Regions from separate parts of the Homo sapiens genome. Here region 2 is linked to region 1. Evidence: fine-mapped expression QTL. Tissue or cell type: transverse colon. Region 1 holds a variant in brackets; the other region holds the start of a gene. All regions are shown on one strand. Distances are between the middles of the regions.

Region 1 (8,102 bases):
GACCACCGTGGGCAGCTCTTCCTGCCCCAGGAGCCCCTTTTGGGAGCAGCAAGGGATGTGGCCACTGACTCAGGGGTGTCAATCACCCATCTTCCCCGGAGCTGCGGTTGCCCACCGGACTCTGAGGGGAATCAGAAGTCAGTCGCGTAGAGAGCATCCTGGGGAAGCCTCAGGCACCGTCCGGCCTGGCCTTTCTGCTCCAAGCCCTCCCCCTGCGCCCAGCACGACCCCATCTCTGTACACTACCATGAGATCACTGGTGGACAGCTGTCTCTACTGTGTGGCCAGCCCCAGCAGAGGCTGAGGGTCGGGCACCTGGAGGTCAGGCTGGGGTCTACCACTCCCAGCAGCTGGGTCCTCTCTGCAACAGAGGGCATTCCTGGGGGCCAGCCCAGCTCCTCTGGGGATTTCTTCCCACTTTGTAGACCCCAGACTTAGTGCCAATAGAAGACCACTTCTCGCAGGGTACAAAGTCTGTTCAACAAGTATTTGCTGGGCGTCCACTCTGGGCAGGGCCTTGGCAAGACCCAGGAGAGGAGACGCTGTGGGGGGTCTGGAGGCCCAAGGGGGTTACTAAGCCCAGCCCTGGGGTTAAGGGAAGTCTAATGAGGGAAGTCGACATTTGCAAGACAAAAAGAATTTGATCTGTTGGAAGTGCAGAGGGCTGCCCCAAGCCAAGAAAACAGCGGGGCACAAAGCCCTGGGGGAGACAAGAGGCCTCCCCTGCCCCCAGCTCTTGCCCAACCTGTTAGGGAGCAGTGCTCTAGCCAGCGCCTTCTCAGGGCTTCAGGAGGCCAGTGTGCAAAGCAAGGGTGACCTAGTGGGGTCCTGGGGGCTATCCTGTTGGGGCTTGGCAGCCAGCCACATGCATCTTTGGTCATTGCCACGGTCACGGTCCCTGCCTTCCCATCCCTGCTGGCTCGTGGGATGTCTACGGGGCTTGCCTGGCACCCCCGGCCCTCCTCTGCACTCCTCAGGAAGGAAGGTTCAGGATCCCTGAGCTCAGCCTCCCCAAGGCAGCTCTTTAGAAGCCTACAATCTTAGCTGGAAACCGTCACGGTTAAGGGTTTCCTCCCGGTGGCTCCCCAGCGCCCCTCAGCCCGGCCTGAGACTTATCACTGCCCCCCAGCTGGTGCCCCCCTCCTCCTCCAACCACCTCACCCTGGGTGATTCAGCAAATCTTCCCTCCATGAGGGGAAAAACAAGAGTGAAAAATCACAATGTCAGATTACAAAGCCCTAACTGTAGGGCAGGCCCCTGGCAGGGAGATAAGGGTCTCATTCCCCACCCTCAAAGCCTCTCTGGCAGATAAACCTCCTAGAGCAGCATGGGCTGCACTGCTGCAGGTGTGGGGTGGGGAGGCCTGGCCTCACGGAAGTCTGGTCAGGGGACACAGGGCCCTGCCAGGAGCTGAGGGCCCACAGCTCGGCCACTGTGCAGAGCTGGCCAAAGAGGAAGTGCCACGGCCAGCATTGATGTTGCCATCCCAACAACTGCCTTGGAGGGAAAAAGAGAAGGGCAGGGCCTTCTGAGAAAGTTCAATGACAGGATGCCCCACAAATGCCCTTCACCCTGGGGTGTCCCTCTGCCAGCTCAGCCTGCAAACCATGATCCCTTGTACGACTGCAGCCCAGCTGTGTTGCAGAAGTAAAGGTGTCTGCCCCCATGAAGCCAGCCCAGAGGAGGGAGGAGCTGGGATGCCATTCCTGGGAGGGGGGCCTCCTCTGGGGAGGCCTGGGTGGACTTGAAGGCAGCTCAGCCTCATCTGCCCTAGAGACCTTGCCAGGAGAAATCCTGGGTCTCCAAGCCAGGAGATCTGCTAGGCTGGGAGACCTGCCCTGGGAGCCACTTGTCAGCAGGGGACCCTGTGATTGTGGGGATGAGGCTGGGGGTAGGAAGGGGCGGTCACTAGGCTTCCTCTGCTGGTGGAGGACAATGAAATGATGGCTTTGAAGCTGAACTCTGTGCTGGGCCCTGGTGCTCTAAGCAAGTCATTTCTCTACTTTTTAGCCCCGTATGCTGTCTGTAAAGTGAGATAAGAAAACCCACCCGCAGGGCTGTCCTGGGGAGTCCAGGTGCATGCCAAGCAGGAGTGGCACAGGTCCTGGTCTCTGTTTCCCAGGGTTGGGGACCAGCATCTGGCTGGAATGGGGGTGGCTTTGGGATAAGTGCCTGCATAGCTCTTGGTATCCAGGGCCAAGGGTCCAGCTGCCCAGCATTCTAAAGACTCTCCATTGTCTGGGGAAGCTCTCTGAGGTCATTTCCCACAACACCATGGGATGGCTGCGGTGGGCTAGGGAAAGGAGGGTGTGCAGCAGGCACATAAACTTTCTAGAGTAGTGTGGGTTGCACCACTGCAGGCATGAGGTGGGGCGCCCCGGTGTCACAAAAGTCCGATCAGGGGACATATGGTCCTGCCAGGAGCTAAGGGCCCAGAGCTTGGCCACCGTGCAGAGAGCTGGGCGAAGAGGAAGCGCCGCAGCCAGTGGACTTGGTTCCACTCAGCTGCAAAAGGAAGAGAGTTGGTCAAGACGACGTCTGCAGTCCCTTCACTATAAAATTTTGCAAAATACAAACTGCTCAGTGGGTGTGTAGTTGGCCGAAGGTACTCCACCAAAGAGGTACCAAAAGCTGGTGGGCTTCAAAGCAGCATCGTCCCCAGCAGCCAAAAAGTGGGCACCCCAAGTGTCCATCCACAGATGATGGGTAAACAAAACGGGGCCTGTCCATGCTAGGAAATATGACTTGGCCATCAAAGGGAATGGAGCTCTGACACATGCCACACGTGGACCTTGAGGACATCATGCTGAGTGAAACAGGCCAGTCACAAAAGCACAAGCACAGGATGATTCCACTTATATGAGGTCCCTAGAGTAGTCAAATTCATCGAAAGTAGAATGGTGGCTGGCAGGATCTGGGGGAGGGGAGTGGGGAGTTAGTGTCTAATGGGTACAGAGCTTCAGTTTGGGAAAAGTTCTGGTGTTGGCTGGTGGTGATGATTGCACAACAATGTGAATGTACCCAATGCCACTGAACTGTACACTTAGAAATAGTTAAGAAGGTAAAATTTATTAAGTATATTTTAGTAACCCCTCCCCCCGCCCCCGCCAAAAAAAAAAAGCCCATGTGCACAGTGGTCTCTGCTGAATGAAGACTTGAAAACCAGAGCCCAGCCCTAAACAGCTCATGCATAGTCCAGGCAGAGAAACAGAGCAGGTAATGCCCCCTCAACTGATGGCAGACGGGCCAGGGAGCCCTGCTCTGGGCTGGAGCAGGGAGGCACCTTCAGGGTTGTGGGAGATCTGCAGGGAGAGCCACTTCTCCCTAGGGGTGGGTGTCTGAGCAACAGCACCAGAATCCCAGCGACATTCTCTCCTTCCTCCTTCCAGACTGGCTTTGCCTGCCTCTGAGGCTCTGGGAATGCTGTTCCCTCCACTTGGAAGGCAGTTTCCTCACTTCACCAATTCTTTATCTTCGTCATCCCAAACCCAACCCACATGCACCCCACAAGAAAACCTCCCCTTGCCAGTTATAGACTCTCAAATCCCCCAGAAATTCTGCCCTCTGATGTTGATCATAATTGTCATGAAATAGCTATTTGTGTCATTGTGTGACACGTTCTATGAAATTCTCCATTGCTTCCCCAGTACTCATTAAGGAAATGCTTTTTGTCAGATGGACAGATGGATGGTTGGGTGAGTGGATGGATGGATGAATGATGGATGGATGGATGGTTGGATGGATGGATGGAAGCATGGATAGATGGATGGATGGGTGGATGGATGGATGGTGGATGTGTGGATGGATGGATGGATGAACAGATGGGTGGATGGATGGATGGATGGATGGATGGATGGTTGGATGGATGGATGGATGGATGGTGGATGTGTGGATGGATGAATGGATGAACAGATGGGTGGATGGATGGATGGATGGATGCATGGATGGATGGATGGATGGATGGACGGATGGACGGATGGATGGACAGATGGATGGATGGATGGATGGGTGGGTGGATGGATGATAGGTGGATGGATGGATGGATGGATGGATGGTGGTTGGGTGGATGGATGGTGGATGGGTGGATGGATGGACAATGGGTGGATGGATAGGCAAGCAAAC[T/G]GAAGGGTCTACCCACCCAAAGGGGCCAATGCATGGAGTGCCTAGGCCTGGATAACAGGGTGCAAGTATACGTGTGAATGGGTGCTTTCGAGTCTTTTGCCTAGAACCATGAATTACAGTTCAGGCCCACTGTCAGTCCTACCTGACACTGTGTGGACTGTGGACCTGTCTGAGAACGGCTTCCTGGATCTAGAGGTTTGGCTGAAGGACAGCACTCACCATCTCCTGGGAGGATGAGCTCTCAATCTGATCTGATCTGATTGGCTTGGAGGACCCATCCCAGATGGCACCATCCAACTGTACCTAGCACTTGCTGTGACCTGGGCTGGCACTAGCTGAGCACTTCCCATAGAATAGCAGGAGCTACTTTTCCCTGTTTTACAGACATGGAAACTGAGGCACGCATTTGCCCAAGGTTTGACTGAACTTTAAAGGACCTCTTCCCCAAGGCTTTTTAATCCCAAGGTAAACCCTTCCCAAGGAATCAAGGGGTCAGGGATGGACCTGTGGCCCACTCTCCTCTACAGATCCCCTAAAACAGACAGCAAGTTCCCAGTGTGGTGCTCTGGGCCGGCGTGGAGGGGTCAGGAAGGGATGAGCCTGGAGTAGGGAAGCACTTTGGAGAATGCCAGACCCGGGGCCCTTCCCTCCCTCTCCACCTCCCTCCTCCTGTTCCTTTCCTCCTCTTCCCTCACTCTTCCTCCCCACCTCTTCCCTCCCCTCCTCTCTCTCCCTCCTCTTCTCCCCATCTCCCTTTCCTTCTCCTCCTCCCTATCTCCCTTTCCTTCTCCTCCTCCCTCTCCCCTTTCCCCACTCTTCCTAGCCACAGGTGGGGTTGTGGCCCTGGCTGAAACTCTTGAATGACTTAGTGATTCTTTCCTTCCAGCATCTTGAGTTCTTCCTGGACCTAGGGGTGGGGGGGCACTGCCAGTGGCCAGGGGAGGGGACTGCGGGGCACGCATGGGACTCCCTGGCTCGGTCCTCTGTTCTCTCCTCCATTTATGGGTTCGCTCACTCAGCAGCATTGATTTCATGCCAGGCGCTGGGGAAGCGGGGTCCAAAGAGACACCCCCGACCCTGCTCAGGGATGGGGGCAGTAGGTGTGCTGCACGGAGGGGCCTCTTCAAGTGGGGGCAGAAACCCCTTCCCAGAGGTCACCCAGAACCAAAAGGGGAGCAGGAAGGAAAGGCATGGAGGTCCTGGGGAGGCCCTGGCATCGCAGGGCCAGGAATTTGGGGGTGGGGCAAAGTGGGAGTGGTTAGGAGAAGACAGGGGTGGGAGCAGCGGGACCCACTCCCACAGTCTCTGGTAAAGCTTTGGGTCTCTGCCCCAGAGCAGTGGGATCGACTTGCATTTTCGGGGGAGAAGCATCCCTGGTGTCCTGGTGGCCAGGGAAGTCAGGAGCCCTGCAAGGTGACTGGAGCCCTACAACTCAGGGGGCAGGGGTTGCAAAGACCAGCCAGGCAGCCCCCTCAAGATGGAACCGCTCACGGGTCTAGGGAACCAAGGTGGGCCACCGCTGGAGGGTGGCCTGAGTCCTCTGAGGCCCCTGTGGTCCCAACACAGGCAGGTCTCCTGGGGGGAGAGACAGAAATGGTTGTGGCTCCAATAGGGAACAATGTAGTAATGTCTAACTAAATCACAGAGGCACACACCCTTTGGCCCAACAATACCTTACAGATGCCTAGCCCATGTGTACACACTACAGTGATTCACTACAAGCATTTGTTTTTGGGAAAGGTTGGAAACAACCTAAGTACCCATTAAAGAGGGTTGCGTAAATAAATCATGGTCCAGCCACACAGGGGAATACTGTCCATCTGTTCAAAGAAATGAGGAAGCACTTTCTGAATTGACAGAGAGTAATTTCCATGATATATTGCCAAGTGAAAAAAGGAAGGTAGGAAGGGAATGTATACCAAGGCACCATTGGTGGTCAACGAATTGATAGTTGGCTGTAATAGATGAAGGAGTCATATTATAATCTCTGGGGAAGCCAGTAAAAGCATGTGCAACTATTTATTACAGGGGAAGTTGAATAAGAAAACCCATTTGTGAGTTAGTTGTTTGCTTTTTAAAAAGGGGATGGAGAATATATATATATATATATAATTTTGTTTATAACATTGTAGATTGTCTCCAGAGAGATAAACAAGAAACCGTTGACATTGATCACCTCCAGAGAAAAGGTGATCTCAGTGTCTGGGGGAAAGGAGTGGGAGGGAGACTTTTCACTGAGTGCCTTTTTGTGTCCTTTGAATTTTGAAACACATGCATATAGTTACCCATCCTCTTAATAGAGAAGTGTAAGTGGATGTGGGAGATGCCTTAGAAGGCTGTTCCCAGTGGCGAAGTGGAGGCTGTTCCCAGTGGTGTGAGTTGAACCAGGGTGATGGATGGATGGGTGGAGAAGATGGATTTCTGATGAATTTAAGAGATAGAGTGGACTGATGTGGCAGCAGATGGATGAGGGGCAAGTGGGGAATCCGGGATGACACCCACGTTTCCGGTGCTGCCATTCCTGAGAAAGAGAATCCTGCAGGAGGGAGTCATGGGAAGAGATCTGGGAAGATACAGGGTGAGTTCAGTTTAAGCATCATTTGTTTTTTTTGTCTCCCCCTTTGACTGTCCAGGGTTCTCCCATCTCCCCTGTGAATAAATTTCCCCATGTGGGTGTGGTCTTAGAGAACGGACAGTTCCCTGTGTGGCCCCTGCCTGTTGGAGTAAGTCCTGGGCTTAGATGCTTCCTTGGTCACCCTCTAGCAGGTAGTCCCATAACCTAAGCCCTACCCATTCTTGTCCATTCTAGGAGTTTTGATGTTCAATAGGTGATGCAAAGAACCCACTCACCCTCCAGAGCCCCCCAGGTCCCCTGTCTGCCCCATTGGTGAGGTGACTCACTAAAAAGGAACCTGGGAATTCTTTGGGGGTGATTGAAATATTCTGTGTCATGATTGACATGGTGACTACATTTATATAGTTGTAAAGTCATCAAACTATATACTTAAACTGGGTGTATTTTATTGCATATAAATTATACCTCAATAAAGCTGATTTAAAAGTATAACACATGCTGGGTGTGGTAGCTCACACCTGTAATCTCAGCACTTTGGGAAGCCAAGGTTGTAGGATCACTGGAGGCCAGAAGTTCAAGACCAGCCTGGGCAACATAGTGAGACCCCATCTCTACAAAAAATAAAAAAAAATAAAATGGCCAAGTGTGGTGACACGTACCTGTAGTCTCAGCTACTCGGGAAGCTGAGGTGGGAGGTCGAAGGCTCAAGGCTTGAGACCAGGAGGTCGAGGCTGCAGTGAGTGCTACTGCACTCCAGCCCAGGTGACAGAGCAAGACCTTGTCTCAAAAAAAAAAAAAAAAAGAAAGGAAAAAGTAATAATAAATACACACATACATGTATGACGTGATAACAACAGAACAAAAGGCAAGAGGCAAAGAAGCATTCAAATGTGTCTTTACATTGTTATGGAAGTAGTAGAAGTACTAATTTGTATTTGACTTTACCAGATCAAGGATTCATATTGTAATCCCCAGGGTAACCAGTAAAAGTTTATACAACTATTTATTAGAGGAAAAATAAAATAACAAAATATAATTAGTATTAAAGAAGGAAAAGGAAGGAAAACCATATAGAACAGATAGAACAAATAGAAAACAGTAATGTGAAAGCTTTAAACACAAATATATTAGTATTACATTAAATATAAAAAGATTAAATATTCCAGCTAAAAGACACAGGATCTTAGAAAAGAGAAACAACTACATGCTGCCTATAAGAGATAGACTTAAAATATAAGAATACAGTGGCTGGGTGTGGTGGCTCACACCTGTAATCCCAGCACTTTGGGAGGCCAAGGAGGGTGGATCACCTGAGGTCAGGAGTTTGACACCAGCCTGGCCAACATGGTGAAACCTCATCTCTACTAAAAATACAACCATTAGCCAGGCGTGGTGGCTCGCACCT
Region 2 (8,102 bases), 56 kb after region 1:
CAGCAGCACTCCCTCCCAACCTGTGTGCGTGCCGAGTATTTGTTGAAGAAACAGTCAGTTGTCAGAGAATGGCCCTGTTCTGGATTGGCTGGTTGCTTCTGTGTGGTGCTGAACCTGCTCCTCTCTCCCCTGTATTTCCTGGGGACAGGTGGAGGCTCAGCCAGATTCGGGTTCAAGGTCTCTTCCTAGGCTGCGTCAGTCTGCATGCACGGGAGGTCTGCTTACTAGGATTGACCAGCAGGTTTAGGTGTTGTCAGCCTGATGTGTTGGTCTTTTATCTAACGGTTTTTGGGTTTCTGTGGTTTTTTGTTTCATTTGTGGGTCTTTTTTTTTTTTTTGAGATGGTCTTGCTTTGTCACCCAGGTTGGAGTGCAGTGATGCAATCAGGGCTCACTGCAGCCTCAACCTCCTGGGCTCGGGTGATCCTTCCACCTCAGCCTCCTGAGTAGCTGGAACTACAGGTTGTGTACCGCCATGCCCAGATAATTTTTGAATTTTTGTAGAGATGAGGTCTCACTAATGTTGTCCAGGCTGGGCTCAAGGGATCCTCCCGCCTCAGCCTTCCAAAGTACTGGGATTACAGGTGTGAGCCACTGCGTCCAGCCTATTTAATGGCTTTTGAATAGCCGTTGATAATTGCCTGGACCTACTACTTCCTTAAGGGTGCAAAATGGTGATTTTTTTGAATTATATCGTTCCCTCTGCATTTAGTAGCTGGAATCCTATAAAGGAATCTTCCTCATCGTCTGTTTGATTACCCTGAAATACTATTTTCACAGAAAAGAAGGGAAAATGCCTGTTATCACCTCTAACAGTTTTCAGAACAATGAGTTAGTGCCCTGGCAAGGGCCAGTGACAGGGCAGGAGGGGGTGGAGAGCGTGTTTCCTGGGCTGCCTGGTGAACTCTCACGTCTGTCAATTGCAGGCTTGCTTTTTCATGCCCAACTTGTCTATCTTTGCCCAGAGGCGGCCTCAGGTTGACCTCTGTAGTCCTTTGACACAAGCCTTGGGTCTTGGGCACCTTCCTTACTTACAGCTACCACGATGCTGCAGGCTCCAGCCCCTCCCTGGCATTTCCTGTTGCGGACCCGGCCCAACCATCTCCCCAGGGTGCACTCAGTCGGTGTGAATATGGTGTTTAGAGACCCCAGTCTGGTCACCAGGGGTGGGGCTTGCTCCTGGGATTTCGTTACTGCTAGGGCTTTGGAAGAGACAGAGCCAGGAAATAAGTTTTTTTTTTTTTTTTTTGCCAATTTTAAAAAAATAAAGTATGAGGCTGGGCACGGTGGCTCATGCCTGTAATCCCAGCACTTTGGGAGGCTGAGGCGGGCAGATCACTTGAGCTCAGGAGTTTGAGACCAGCCTGGCCAACATGGTGAAACCCAGTCTCTACTAAAAATACAAAAATCGGCTGGGTGTGATGGCGCACGCCTGTAATCCCAGCTACTTCAGAGGCTAAAGCAGGAGGATCCCTCGAACCCAGGAGTTCAAGACTGCAGTGAGCTATGATTGTGCCACTGCACTCTAGCCTGGGTGACAGAGACCCTGTCTCAAAAAAACAAACAAACAAAAAACCTCTGTGGACTCCGGGTGATAATGACATGTCAATGTGGATTCATCAGGTGTTAACAGCTGTACCCCCTGGTGGGGGATGTTGATAACGGGGGAGACTGGAGTGGGGCGAGGACATACGGGAAATCTCTGTAATCTTCCTCTAATTTTGCTGTGAACCTAAAGCTGCTCTAAAAATGTACATAGATATAAACTGGGGCCTTCCTTTCCCTCTGCCCTGCCCCAGCCCTCCCCCACCTCCTTCCTCTCCCTGCTGCCTCCCCTCTGCCCTCCCCTTTCCTCCTTAGCCACTGTAAATGACACTGCAGCAAAGGTCTGAGGCAAATGCCTTTGCCCTGGGGCGCCCCAGCCACCTGCAGGCCCCTTATTTCCTGTGGCCGAGCTCCTCCTCCCACCCTCCAGTCCTTTCCCCAGCCTCCCTCGCCCACTAGGCCTCCTGAATTGCTGGCACCGGCTGTGGTCGACAGACAGAGGGACAGACGTGGCTCTGCAGGTCCACTCGGTCCCTGGCACCGGCCGCAGGGGTGGCAGAACGGGAGTGTGGTTGGTGTGGGAAGCACAGGCCCCAGTGTCTCCTGGGGGACTGTTGGGTGGGAAGGCTCTGGCTGCCCTCACCCTGTTCCCATCACTGCAGAGGGCTGTGCGGTGGCTGGAGCTGCCACTGAGTGTCTCGGTGAGGGTGACCTCACACTGGCTGAGCTTAAAGGCCCCATCTGAAGACTTTGTTCGTGGTGTTCTTTCACTTCTCAGAGCCTTTCCTGGCTCCAGGATTAATACCTGTTCACAGAAAATACGAGTCGCCTCCTCCTCCACAACCTCACACGACCTTCTCCCTTCCCTCCCACTGGCCTCTTTCCCTCCCCTTCTGTCACTCTGCCTGGGCATGCCCCAGGGCCTCGGCTGGGCCCTTTGTTTCCACAGGGAAACCTACATGGTTGGGCTAGATGCCTCCGCACCCCCCCACCCACACCCCCTGAGCCTCTAGTCCTCCCTCCCAGGACACATCAGGCTGGATGGTGACACTTCCACACCCTTGAGTGGGACTGCCTTGTGCTGCTCTGGGATTCGCACCCAGCTTGGACTACCCGCTCCACGGGCCCCAGGAAAAGCTCGTACAGATAAGGTCAGCCACATGAGTGGAGGGCCTGCAGCATGCTGCCCTTTCTGTCCCAGAAGTCACGTGCTCGGTCCCCTCTGAAGCCCCTTTGGGGACCTAGGGGACAAGCAGGGCATGGAGACATGGAGACAAAGTATGCCCTTTTCTCTGACAGTGACACCAAGCCCTGTGAACAAACCAGAAGGCAGGGCACTGTGCACCCTGCCCGGCCCCACCATCCCCCTTACCACCCGCCACCTTGCCACCTGCCTCTGCTCCCAGGTAAGTGGTAACCTGCACAGGTGCACTGTGGGTTTGGGGAAAACTGGATCTCCCTGCACCTGAGGGGGTAGAGGGGAGGGAGTGCCTGAGAGCTCATGAACAAGCATGTGACCTTGGATCCAGCTCCATAAATACCCGAGGCCCAGGGGGAGGGCCACCCAGAGGCTGATGCTCACCATGGGGCGCCTGCAACTGGTTGTGTTGGGCCTCACCTGCTGCTGGGCAGTGGCGAGTGCCGCGAAGGTAAGAGCCCAGCAGAGGGGCAGGTCCTGCTGCTCTCTCGCTCAATCAGATCTGGAAACTTCGGGCCAGGCTGAGAAAGAGCCCAGCACAGCCCCGCAGCAGATCCCGGGCACTCACGCTCATTTCTATGGGGACAGGTGCCAGGTAGAACACAGGATGCCCAATTCCATTTGAATTTCAGATAAACTGCCAAGAACTGCTGTGTAAGTATGTCCCATGCAATATTTGAAACAAATTTCTATGGGCCGGGCGCAGTGGCTCACACCTGCAATCCCACCAGTTTGGGAGGCCGAGGTGGGTGGATCACTTGAGGTCAGGAGTTGGAGACCAGCCTGGCCAACATGGTGAAACCCCGTCTCTACTAAAAATACAAATATTAATCGGGCGTGGTGGTGGGTGCCTGTAATCCCAGCTACTCGGGAGGCTGAGGCAGGAGAACCGCTTGAAGCTGGGAGGTGGAGATTGCGGTGAGCTGAGATCACGCTACTGCACTCCAGCCTGGGTGACAGGGCGAGACTCTGTCTCAAAAAATAGAAAAAGAAAAAAATGAAACATACTAAAAAACAATTCACTGTTTACCTGAAATTCAAATGTAACTGGGCCTCTTGAATTTACATTTGCTAATCCTGGTGATTCCACCTCTCTGTTGTTCCCATTTTACAGAAGGGGAAACGGGCCCAGGGGCAGGGAGTGTGGAGAGCAGGCAGACGGGTGGAGAGAAGCAGGCAGGCAGTTTGCCCAGCATGGCACAGCTGCTGCCTCCTATTCCTGTGCAGGAAGCTGAAAGCCGAGCTACTCCACACCCGGGTCCGGGTCCCTCCAGAAAGAGAGCCGGCAGGCAGGAGCTCTCTCGAGGCATCCATAAATTCTACCCTCTCTGCCTGTGAAGGAGAAGCCACAGAAACCCCAAGCCCCACAGGAAGCCGGTGTCGGTGCCCGGCCCAGTCCCTGCCCCCAGCAGGAGTCACACAGGGGACCCCAGATCCCAACCACGCTGTTCTGCCGCCTGCGGTGTCTCAGGCCCTGGGGACTCCTGTCTCCACCTCTGCTGCCTGCTCTCCACACTCCCTGGCCCTGGGACCGGGAGGTTTGGGCAGTGGTCCTGGGCTCCTGACTCAAAGGAGAGGTCACCTTCTTCTTGGGCGAGCTCTTCTTGGGGTGCTGAGAGGCCTTCGGCAGGTCATCACGACCCCTCCCCATTTCCCCACCCTGAGGCCCTCTGGCCAGTCTCAATTGCACAGGGATCACGCCACTGGCACAAGGAGACACAGATGCCTCGCAGGGGATGCCCACGATGCCTGCATGTGTTGCTTCTGGTTCCTTTCCTCCAGTTCCAACCGCCGCACTCTCCCACACCAGTGTGACAGGGGGCCCATCACCCTAGACTTCAGAGGGCTGCTGGGACCCTGGCTGGGCCTGGGGGTGTAGGGCCACCCTGCCCTTCCCCACCTGGAACCTGGCACAGGTGACAGCCAGCAAGCAATGACCTGGTCCCACCATGCACCACGGGAAGAGGGAGCTGCTGCCCAAGATGGACAGGAGGTGGCACTGGGGCAGACAGCTGCTTCTCAACAGGGTGACTTCAAGCCCAAAAGCTGCCCAGCCTCAGTTCCGTCAGGGACAGAGGGTGGATGAGCACCAACCTCCAGGCCCCTCGTGGGGGTGGACAGCTTGGTGCACAGAGGCCATTTTCATGGCACAGGGAAGCGTGGCGGGGGTGGGAGGTGTGGTCCCTAGGGGGTTCTTTACCAGCAGGGGGCTCAGGAACTGTGGGGACTTGGGCATGGGGCCATCGACTTTGTGCCCAGCCAGCTAGGCCCTGTGCAGGGAGATGGGAGGAGGGAAAAGCAGGCCCCACCCCTCAGAAAGGAGGAAGGTTGGTGTGAAACATCCCGGGTACACTGAGCATTGGGTACACTCCTCCCGGGAGCTGGACAGGCCTCCCATGTGATGGCAAACAGGCCGACAGGAGACACGGCTGTTGCTCGTCTTCCACATGGGGAAACTGAGGATCGGAGTCAAAGCTGGGCGGCCATAGCCAGAACCCAAACCTCCATCCCACCTCTTGGCCGGCTTCCCTAGTGGGAACACTGGTTGAACCAGTTTCCTCTAAGATTCTGGGAGCAGGACACCCCCAGGGATAAGGAGAGGAACAGGAATCCTAAAGCCCTGAGCATTGCAGGGCAGGGGGTGCTGCCTGGGTCTCCTGTGCAGAGCTGTCCTGCTTTGAAGCTGTCTTTGCCTCTGGGCACGCGGAGTCGGCTTGCCTTGCCCCCTCCGGATTCAGGCCGATGGGGCTTGAGCCCCCCTGACCCTGCCCGTGTCTCCCTCGCAGCTGGGCGCCGTGTACACAGAAGGTGGGTTCGTGGAAGGCGTCAATAAGAAGCTCGGCCTCCTGGGTGACTCTGTGGACATCTTCAAGGGCATCCCCTTCGCAGCTCCCACCAAGGCCCTGGAAAATCCTCAGCCACATCCTGGCTGGCAAGGTGGGAGTGGGTGGTGCCGGACTGGCCCTGCGGCGGGGCGGGTGAGGGCGGCTGCCTTCCTCATGCCAACTCCTGCCACCTGCAGGGACCCTGAAGGCCAAGAACTTCAAGAAGAGATGCCTGCAGGCCACCATCACCCAGGACAGCACCTACGGGGATGAAGACTGCCTGTACCTCAACATTTGGGTGCCCCAGGGCAGGAAGCAAGGTCTGCCTCCCCTCTACTCCCCAAGGGACCCTCCCATGCAGCCACTGCCCCGGGTCTACTCCTGGCTTGAGTCTGGGGGCTGCAAAGCTGAACTTCCATGAAATCCCACAGAGGCGGGGAGGGGAGCGCCCACTGCCGTTGCCCAGCCTGGGGCAGGGCAGCGCCTTGGAGCACCTCCCTGTCTTGGCCCCAGGCACCTGCTGCACAGGGACAGGGGACCGGCTGGAGACAGGGCCAGGCGGGGCGTCTGGGGTCACCAGCCGCTCCCCCATCTCAGTCTCCCGGGACCTGCCCGTTATGATCTGGATCTATGGAGGCGCCTTCCTCATGGGGTCCGGCCATGGGGCCAACTTCCTCAACAACTACCTGTATGACGGCGAGGAGATCGCCACACGCGGAAACGTCATCGTGGTCACCTTCAACTACCGTGTCGGCCCCCTTGGGTTCCTCAGCACTGGGGACGCCAATCTGCCAGGTGCGTGGGTGCCTTCGGCCCTGAGGTGGGGCGACCAGCATGCTGAGCCCAGCAGGGAGATTTTCCTCAGCACCCCTCACCCCAAACAACCAGTGGCGGTTCACAGAAAGACCCGGAAGCTGGAGTAGAATCATGAGATGCAGGAGGCCCTTGGTAGCTGTAGTAAAATAAAAGATGCTGCAGAGGCCGGGAGAGATGGCTCACGCCTGTAATCCCAGCACTTTAGGAGGCCCACACAGGTGGGTCACTTGAGCGCAGAAGTTCAAGACCAGCCTGAAAATCACTGGGAGACCCCCATCTCTACACAAAAATTAAAAATTAGCTGGGGACTGGGCGCGGCGGCTCACCCCTGTAATCCCAGCACGTTGGGAGCCCAAGGTGGGTAGATCACCTGAGGTCAGGAGTTTGAGACCAGCCTGACTAAAATGGAGAAACCTCTTCTCTACTAAAAATACAAAATTAGCCAGGCGTGGTGGCGCTTGCCTGTAATCCCAGCTACTCGGGAGGCTGAGGCAGGAGAATCGCTTGAACTCAGGAGGCGGAGGTTGCGGTGAGCCGAGATCATGCCACTGCACTCCAGCCTGGAGAACAAGAGTAAAACTCTGTCTCAAAAAAAAAAAAAAAAAAAAAAATAGCCAGGCGTGGTATCTCATGCCTCTGTCCTCAGCTACCTGGGAGGCAGAGGTGGAAGGATCGCTTGAGCCCAGGGGTTCAAAGCTGCAGTGAGCCGTGGTCGTGCCACTGCACTCCAGCCTGGGCGACAGAGTGAGGCCCCATCTCAAAAATAAGAGGCTGTGGGACAGACAGACAGGCAGACAGGCTGAGGCTCAGAGAGAAACCAGGAGAGCAGAGCTGAGTGAGAGACAGAGAACAATACCTTGAGGCAGAGACAGCTGTGGACACAGAAGTGGCAGGACACAGACAGGAGGGACTGGGGCAGGGGCAGGAGAGGTGCATGGGCCTGACCATCCTGCCCCCGACAAACACCACCCCCTCCAGCACCACACCAACCCAACCTCCTGGGGACCCACCCCATACAGCACCGCACCCGACTCAGCCTCCTGGGGACCCACCCACTCCAGCAACCAACGTGACCTAGTCTCCTGGGGACCCACCCCCTCCAGCACCCTACCCGACCCAGCTTCTTAGGGACCCACCATTTGCCAACTGGGGCTCTGCCATGGCCCCAACTCTGTTGAGGGCATTTCCACCCCACCTATGCTGATCTCCCCTCCTGGAGGCCAGGCCTGGGCCACTGGTCTCTAGCACCCCCTCCCCTGCCCTGCCCCCAGGTAACTATGGCCTTCGGGATCAGCACATGGCCATTGCTTGGGTGAAGAGGAATATCGCGGCCTTCGGGGGGGACCCCAACAACATCACGCTCTTCGGGGAGTCTGCTGGAGGTGCCAGCGTCTCTCTGCAGGTCTCGGGATCCCTGTGGGGAGGGCCTGCCCCACAGGTTGAGAGGAAGCTCAAACGGGAAGGGGAGGGTGGGAGGAGGAGCGTGGAGCTGGGGCTGTGGTGCTGGGGTGTCCTTGTCCCAGCGTGGGGTGGGCAGAGTGGGGAGCGGCCTTGGTGACGGGATTTCTGGGTCCCGTAGACCCTCTCCCCCTACAACAAGGGCCTCATCCGGCGAGCCATCAGCCAGAGCGGCGTGGCCCTGAGTCCCTGGGTCATCCAGAAAAACCCACTCTTCTGGGCCAAAAAGGTAAACGGAGGAGGGCAGGGCTGGGCGGGGTG

Evidence for each region. PIP is the estimated chance that this variant, and not a neighbour inherited with it, causes the effect.
Region 2: it holds the start of CEL, and the variant in region 1 is fine-mapped to the expression of CEL in transverse colon (CEDAR, PIP 0.95).

The regions. Positions count from the first base shown.
Region 1 is chr9:133,003,135-133,011,236 of GRCh38, forward strand. No RefSeq gene overlaps it. Among named protein-coding and RNA genes, the nearest start is that of SNORD141A, 13 kb to the right of the region's middle. RefSeq lists enhancers at 92-965, 1,049-1,193, 1,068-1,362, 1,840-2,711 and cis regulatory regions at 693-1,644, 1,112-1,129. The variant T/G (reference allele first, on the strand shown) is at 4,123.
Region 2 is chr9:133,058,876-133,066,977 of GRCh38, forward strand. CEL (carboxyl ester lipase) reads left to right here and starts at 3,106. Exons shown (of 11, transcript NM_001807.6): 1 at 3,106-3,193; 2 at 5,529-5,679; 3 at 5,765-5,887; 4 at 6,165-6,362; 5 at 7,655-7,785; 6 at 7,963-8,070. The coding sequence starts at 3,128. It overlaps LOC124902325, which reads right to left and starts at 2,457. Exons shown (of 2, transcript XM_047424377.1): 1 at 1,874-2,457. The coding sequence starts at 2,457. RefSeq lists enhancers at 1,317-2,068, 2,069-2,821.